Homo sapiens: one gene and its partner. The protein of the gene in region 2 purifies or fractionates together with the protein of the main gene of each other region. This does not show direct contact. Each region holds a gene or a part of one and is shown on either strand. Other genes may lie near its edges.

The links.
Region 1: the proteins of COLEC12 (region 2) and HOMER1 purify together in Homo sapiens (affinity purification with mass spectrometry; 2 studies listed by BioGRID and IntAct, with this or other methods). This does not show direct contact.

What each region holds. Positions count from the first base shown.
Region 1 is NC_000005.10:79,391,910-79,395,733, forward strand, and holds part of HOMER1 (homer protein homolog 1), read right to left. Parts: intron 1-3,824. UniProt on the Homo sapiens protein: Postsynaptic density scaffolding protein. Binds and cross-links cytoplasmic regions of GRM1, GRM5, ITPR1, DNM3, RYR1, RYR2, SHANK1 and SHANK3.
Region 2 is NC_000018.10:329,579-333,402, forward strand, and holds part of COLEC12 (collectin-12), read right to left. Parts: intron 3,566-3,824; coding exon 3,429-3,565; intron 2,200-3,428; coding exon 2,090-2,199; intron 1-2,089. UniProt on the Homo sapiens protein: Scavenger receptor that displays several functions associated with host defense. Promotes binding and phagocytosis of Gram-positive, Gram-negative bacteria and yeast.

The DNA of each region.
Region 1 (3,824 bases), on a different chromosome or scaffold from region 2:
ATCAACCATGAACAGCATATGCAACAGTGGTCCCATAAGATTATAAGGGAGCTGAAAAACTCCTATCACCCAGCAGCTGCCATATCATCACAGCACAATGCCGTACTCATGTGTTTGTGGTGATGCCGATATAAATAAATCTACCGTGCTGTCAGCTGTATAAATGCATAGCACATACAATTATGTATAGTACATAATACTTAATAAAAATAAATGGCCATGTCACTGGTTTATATATTTATTATACTATACTATTTATTACTATTCAAGTTATTTTAGAGTGTACTCCTTCTACTTATTTAAAAAAACATTAATTATCTGACAGCCCCAGGCAGGTCCTTCAGGGGGTATTCCAGAAGAAGGCATTGTTATCATAGGAGATGACAGCTCCATGCCTGTTATTGCCCTTGAAGACCTTCTAGTGGGACAAGATGTGGAGGTAGAAAACAGTGATATTGATGATCCCAACCTTGTGTAGGCATCAGCTAATATGTGTGTTTGTGTCTTCGTTTTTTAAAAGAAGTTTAAAAAGTTTTAAAAACATTTTTTAATAGGAAGAAAGGTTACAGACTAAGGATATAAAGAAAATAGTTTTCTACAGCTGAATACATGTTTATGTTTGCAGCTATTACAAAAAAGTAAAAAGTTAAAAAAATTTTAAATGTTTATGAAGTTAAAATGTTACAGTAAGCTAAGGCTAATTTATTATTGAAGAAATAACATTTTAAAAAATAAATGTAGTGTAGTCTAAGTGCAGTGTTGATAAAGTCTACAGCAGTGTATGGTAATATCTTAGGTCTTCAAATTCACTCACCACTCACTCACTGACCCACCCAGAGCAACTTCCAGTCCTACAGTTCCATTCATGATAAGTGTCCTATTCAAGTGTACAATTTTTACCTTTTCTACTGTATTTTTACTGTACCTTTTCTATCGTTTCTACTGTATTTTTACTCTACCTTTTCTGTGTTTAGATGTGCTTAGATACAAATACATGAATACTTACCACTGTCTTACGAGGGAGGGAGGGAAAAGAAGGGAAAGGGAGAGAGAGAGAGAGAGAGAGAGAGAGAGAGAGAAGAGAGCCATCCAGAATAAAACAAAGCAAATATAGCCAAAATGACATTTGGGGAATGTAAGTAAAGGGTATATAAAAAATTTCTGTATTATTCTTGCAACTTTTCTGTAAGACTGAAATTATTTCAAAATAAAAAGTTTAACTAAAGAACTTATTTATGTAACCAAACACTGCCTGTTCCCAAAAACCTATTGAAATAAAAATAAATAGCTTAAAAACAAAATAGAAATAAAAAACAAGATCATTTCAGCTAGTGATAAGTACTAAAAGGAAAATAAAAAATGGTAATACTACAAAAAATACCTGGGATGGGGTGTGGGGACTGTAGCATAGTCCTTAAATTGGGAAGTCAGAGAAATTAACATCTGAACTAAGACCTAAACTAAAAATAGAAGCCAGCCATCTGAAGATTTGGGCAAAGAATTCCAGGCAAAGATATTCCACATGCTCTAAGGTGAAAATGCACTCGTGACTTCAAGATACAGGTAAAGACTAAATGCATGTGAAAAATTGTTCAATGTTATTCATAATTTAAAAATTAACTAAATAGTTGAGTCACTTCATTTCTTAAGAGATGGCAAAGAACGGGTCCAGGGGGTACCAATATCCAGTGGGTACCCTGCTTTTCCAGATGTCAATTTCCCAGCATAAGAAATTTTAAAACATTGACACCAAGCAATTCTTGTTTGAAAGTTTATCTTAAAGAAATAATCAGAAAGGCAAAGATTTATGAAAAAGGTTGTAATATTATTTATTTATAGCATAACACTGGAAACAACATAAACTGCCATTACTATAGGAATGCTGGAAGAAAACTATGATACCTCTATATGGGAGAATTCTATGCAGCCATTGGGCTTATGACATAAAGTTAGATAAAAATGTATACAAACAAAAAATGGTATCTATATCCATCTCTTATAAAGAAAATATTATCTAAACCAACACTGGGACAAGGAAATGCCAGTTACCTTGCCTTAAGATGACAGGATTATGATTTTTTTAATATTATGGAATTATGATTTTATACTAACCTTGCTAAGTACATTTTTTGAAATTTTTCTAATTTTTTTTACAATGGGCATGTTTTTCATAGACATTTATAACAGAAATATCCAAATATTGCCAAATATCAAAAACTCATAAATTAGAAAAACTGTAGCACGGTATCCTTAATTTACCAATAACTATACATTTTCTATCCACATTCAACTCTAAATACTAATCCAACTCTAAATACTGCAATTTCAGGATTCTTTTCCAAGGAATTTAATGATCCCAATTTTCTGTACTGAACTTATGAATGGAGTTCAAGGGTGCTGGGACCTTTGATAAACAGGAGATGTTTCTGTGGGAGGGAGAAGGCTGCAGAGGAGGAAATTTCTTTGAATTGGAAAAAATATGTTATTTTCTGTAGCTTGTTCTTTTAGAATTCATCCTCAGGTTTTCTAAAAGCTTCCCTGTCCTGTTCTAGGTAGGTTGTTTTGATAATATTTTTGATATTCAGTGAAAGGATGGGTAAGAATTATATTCACAATTTCAAGTGCCAGCTATAAAATTCAATTACTGCTCTATCAATGATGAAATCCATTCATTCATACATTTATTGAGAAAGGGTCTCATTCTGTCACCCAGGCTGGAGTGCAGTGGTGTGATCATAGCTCACTGCAACTCCCAACTCAAGCGAGGCTCAAGTGATCCAAGCAGCTGGGACTACAGGTGCACACCACCACTCCCAGCTAATTCTACTGTTTCATTTTTTTGTAGATGCAGCATTTCGCTATGTTGCCCAGGTTGGCCTTGAACTCCTGGCCTCAAGAGATCTTCCTGCCTCAACCTCCCAAAGCACTGGGATTATAGGCATAAGCAACTATGCCTGGCTTCAAATACATTTAGAATTATCAACATTAGAAATTTGATATAAATATATCATCTCTTTGTTTCTCTTCATAAGTGAGACAATGTAAATGTGTATATAACTGAAAATACTTTTTAAAAGAATCATTAAGGATGACTTGACTGTTTGTTGCTTGAAGAAGTGTGGTAATGCAGAAAGAACGGACTTTGGAATAAAATAAATCTAGGCCTCATTACTTTCTAGCTAAGTGCCTTAATTAAACTTGTTAACACCTTTGAACTGCTGTCTTCTCTTTGAAAATGGGGATACCTCACCTGCTACTGTGAGAATTAGAGCTAATGTAAGTTAAGTGCTTAACATATGCTTGAATCATCGCAAGTACCCGAAACCCAAAACAAACGAAAGACAAAACTTGACTGAATTTCCCCCTTTCTTCCAGCCCTGATTCCATGCTTCATATTTAAGTTCTACATCAGGATTTCTCAACCTTGGCATTATTGACATTTTGGGTTGGATAATCTGATTCTTAGCAGCATCTCTGGCTTTGTCTACTAGATATCAGTGGCGCTCCACTAATTGTGAAAATAAAAAATGTTTGCACACATTGCTAAATGTCCCCTGGGCTTCAAAAGTGCCCCAAGTTGATGACCACTAATCTATATAGACGACTAAAATATACAAACGGCATTTAATAGGGCCAACCAAAACAAGTGATCTCATTTTTCCCAGACTACTGAAAGCCAGTGATGGGAAGGGGAGAGGTAAATATTCCATTTTATATAAGGAATCTGTTTATTTCATGAAGGATTATTATGAAGGGGTTTAAAGCCCATGTCTTTGACTACTAAAATAATGTATTTTGACCATTATCTTAGTGGTCAAAGATTT
Region 2 (3,824 bases):
ATCAGGCAAAGTCTCAAGTGCCAGATTATGCCAGGGGGTACCCCTTCCTCTCCCCAGGACAGGCGCAGAGGAGCCGACGAGTCTCTGACAGGCCTGCAGCAGATATCCACTTGCCCTTAAGGGCAGTCTGAGGCTCACCTTCAGAGCAGACCTAAAATCTTCTAATGTTCCAAATCAATATTTCGCCACATGTTTATTTTTTATAAAGAGCTGGCCTGGCTAGGTGCGGTGGCTCATACCTCTGATCCCAGTGCTTTGCGAGGCCAAGGTGGGAGGATCACTTGAGGCTAGGAGTTTGAGACCAACCAGAGCAACATAGTGGACCACGTCTATCCAAAAACTTTAAAAATTAGCCGGGTGTGGTGATGTGCACCTGTGATTCCAGGGACTTGGGAGTCTGAGGTGGGAGGATCGCTTGAGCTGGGGAGATAAGAGGCTGCAGTGAGCCATGATCGTGCCACTGCCCTTCAGCCTGGGCAACAGAGTGAGACCTTGTCCCTTAAAAACAAACAAATAAAAACAAAAGAGAGATGGCCTTATTCTGGTTTCCTCCTTTATCCTCTGATCCTACTCACATGGAGAATTTGAAAGTACAAAAGAGCCTGTTTATCCAAATGCACATGCACACGCACATAGGGACATTTAAAAAACTCGATCTGGCTTCTCCATCACCTCTGACCCTCCTCCCTGCTGCTCAGCTGATACAGGGCTAGGCCTCCATGCCCATGAGACTCTCTTAGGCCTGAAACACCCTTGTTTTCTCCTCTCCTGGGACAGCCCCAGAGGCCACACCGTGGACTTTGCCTAGTGCTCTCAGAAGGTGCTTCCAATGCGGTGATGCTCCTGTGCCTGGTGGAGCCCTGCAGGGTCTGGCCTCTCCGTCCCCAGCAAACTAAAGGTTACTCAGAGGGTTTTTTTTTTTTTTAATTTTATTTTTTTTATAAATTCTGCTTCATTTGTTACAGTTCCTTGCAATTTTCACACCCGTCAGAGGCAAAGCCAGAGTATGGAGATGTGATAATCAAACTGATGCAATACAGTCATTGTTAGATCTTTGGGTAGAATTAGGGAAGGAGCTAACACCCCCTAGGGTAGGATGAGGCCCTGGAGACTTCTAGGTTATCCAAGAAGGTACCTCAAAGTGATTCTATTCTTTGTTGCTCCTTTCATAGAACTTAGGTCACATGGAACTTATGGGGAATCTTCAAACCTCTAGGGGATGGTTATCCCGCAAATGCAACTTTGTTTATAGTGTATTTTAACTTACTATGAGTAGGAAAATCACACATTTGTAGTTTTTTTTTTTTTTTTTCTTTTTTGAGATAGAGTCTTGCTCTGTGGCCCAGGCTGGAGTGCAGTGGCGCCATCTCGGCTTGCTACAACCTCCGCCTCCTGGGTTTAAGCAATTCTTCTGCCTCAGCCTCCCGAGTAGCTGGCATCACCCGCATGCGCCACCATATCCGGCTAATTTTTGTTTTTTTTGTTTTTTTAGTAGAGACGAGGTTTCACCATGTTGGCCAGGCTGGTCTCGAACTCCAGACTTCAAGTGATCCGCACACCTCAGCCTCCCAAAGTGCCGGGATTACAGGCGTGAGCCACTGTGCCCAGCCAGGAAAATTACTCATTTGTAGTTTCTAATCACACTCTGCCTAGAAGCCCAACTAGGGGTCAGGGGCACCCACAGTGTGATCCTGAAGGGAGCTCCCCAGTCCTTGGAAACACGCCTGGGGCGAACGCTGAACATGCCTGAGGTTGCCTGGGCTTCATCATCTTTTCCCATAGCATTTAAAGAAAATGACTTGGCCAGAAGTATTATGCTGTGTGGTTTTATGAGTTTCATGATTTTTTTCTTAGAAATGAAAAAAAATTCACTCCATGAAAAGAAGAAAGGAAAGCCTTATTTGACAGCGTATCAACTGTCAACCACGATTTCCCCAGGGGAAATATGCAACTGGTACCAGGAGCCCCGGTTTGGGAGGAGCGTCTAGGACACGAGGTCATTAAGGAAGAAACTGTTGGGAGTCGGGCAAGAAGTGACAACAGAACAGTGAGAGCCTGACCACCAATCTGGAAGCTTCTGAGTACTTACTTGTAGTCTGGAGATGTCCCATCCAGCCACTTCCATTCATTTTCACGCTCTGAGTCTGTGAGGCCGATCCAGTGGCTCTCTCTCCCTACCATCTGTTTTTTTATCCATTGCTGAAAAACAAAGCAGGGGTGGTGCGTGACTATTTTTCAGAACAGATGTCTCAGGCCTTTTTCTTTTATTTAACATTTAGAAAAAAGGACAATTTAAAAGAGGATGGTTGTCAGAATGTGTAGCCTGCTTTTGCTTTCTGCTTTTTTCTTGCTACTTGCTTTGTTTTGTGCTGTTTGGGGGGCTTTGACTTTTTTCCTCTTACAAGTTTACAACGGATGTTAAAGTGAGGCTCTTCCTCTAAATCACTCAGACAACCCAGTGAATGTCCATTGGTCCCACTTCCTCCTACCACCCACCCATTTCTCCCATGTCCTAATCATAGGAATAGTCATGATATTCTTGGGCACTTCCTCTGGGCTGGGCCCCACGTGCAGTGTGTTGCACGCAGTGTGTCTCCAAGCTTTTATAACAACCCACTGAACAAACATGAGAAGTAGCTGAGCTGGGCTTGGGCCCTGGTCTGTGTATTCTAAAGCCCAGGTGCTTGGTCACTGTCTGCCGTGTGCTCATTCCAGTCAGTTACTACAGGAAACATCTGTTTACAGGATTGTGTCTGCTGGAGATAACTTAGGGAGAAGGGAGGAGGCCACTGGAATTGGTGTGGTATCAAAGAAAGCGCTGCATTGTTGCTAGATGGGCTGCAGTTTTGGTCTCAGTCTGCATAAACCTTGCCGGGCCTCAGTTTTCCTAGCCGTCAAATGAGGGTAATAATAATACCTATGTTCTAGGGTTGCTGTGAGGTTCAAGGGAGCAAATGCCTCTCACGGTGCCTGGCATATAGAGGGTCTAATGAGTGGACACTAGCATTAGCATGCGTGGGCTCTGCCTCCTCAGCCTTCTTCGCTCTTCCTGACTCCTCTGGAGCCATGCGTGGTCCCTTGCACCCCACTCCATCCCTACAGTGTTCATGCCTCTCTCTGTCCCCACAGGTGCCTGGTGGCAGCCCTCAAGCTTCTCTGCATTATAATTATTTCAACAGCCACCAGAAGGAGCCACACATCTCCAGGCTTGATAGGCAATATCTTCCAGGAAGAATCATGAAGATACAATTCCAATGCCACGAATGCTTCTAGCCACTGGATGAAACCCAAATCTCTGTAATGTTGCCTCCCATGTTTACGTGACTAGGAATTCGTGATATCTCTGAATCCCCAACAAGCCTGCAATTTCCAGATGTAAACTATCCTTAAATTATAGTTTTCCCCAACCAAGTATGTGGCAGGCATACCTGTTCCTCTCTAGTGTTTATGAAAACAAGATGTGAAGACTTGTCTTCACAGAAAAGCTTTGCATCCTCAAAAATTTCTTTCTCAACTGAAAAATAGTAGCATTTGTCTGTGAAGTTCTTCCAGTGAGGCGGGCAGCCTAGGAATGCAAAAGTGGAAAACATTGATTAAAAGATCACAGAAAGCACTCTGCCTTTCTTCAGCTGTGTTTCAGAGGCCAAAACTGTGGTCCCGCTGGGAGCAGCCTGAGCGTCCCTGCACGAGGCCCACAGCTGACGTTCACGGACGTGCTCGCAGCAAGCATGACCCAAAGTGGACTGCAGAGCACAAGCCAAAACCACATAATCTGGAAAAGATCTTTGACTGGGTCTTTGTTCTTCTGTGTCTGGATCCGTCTT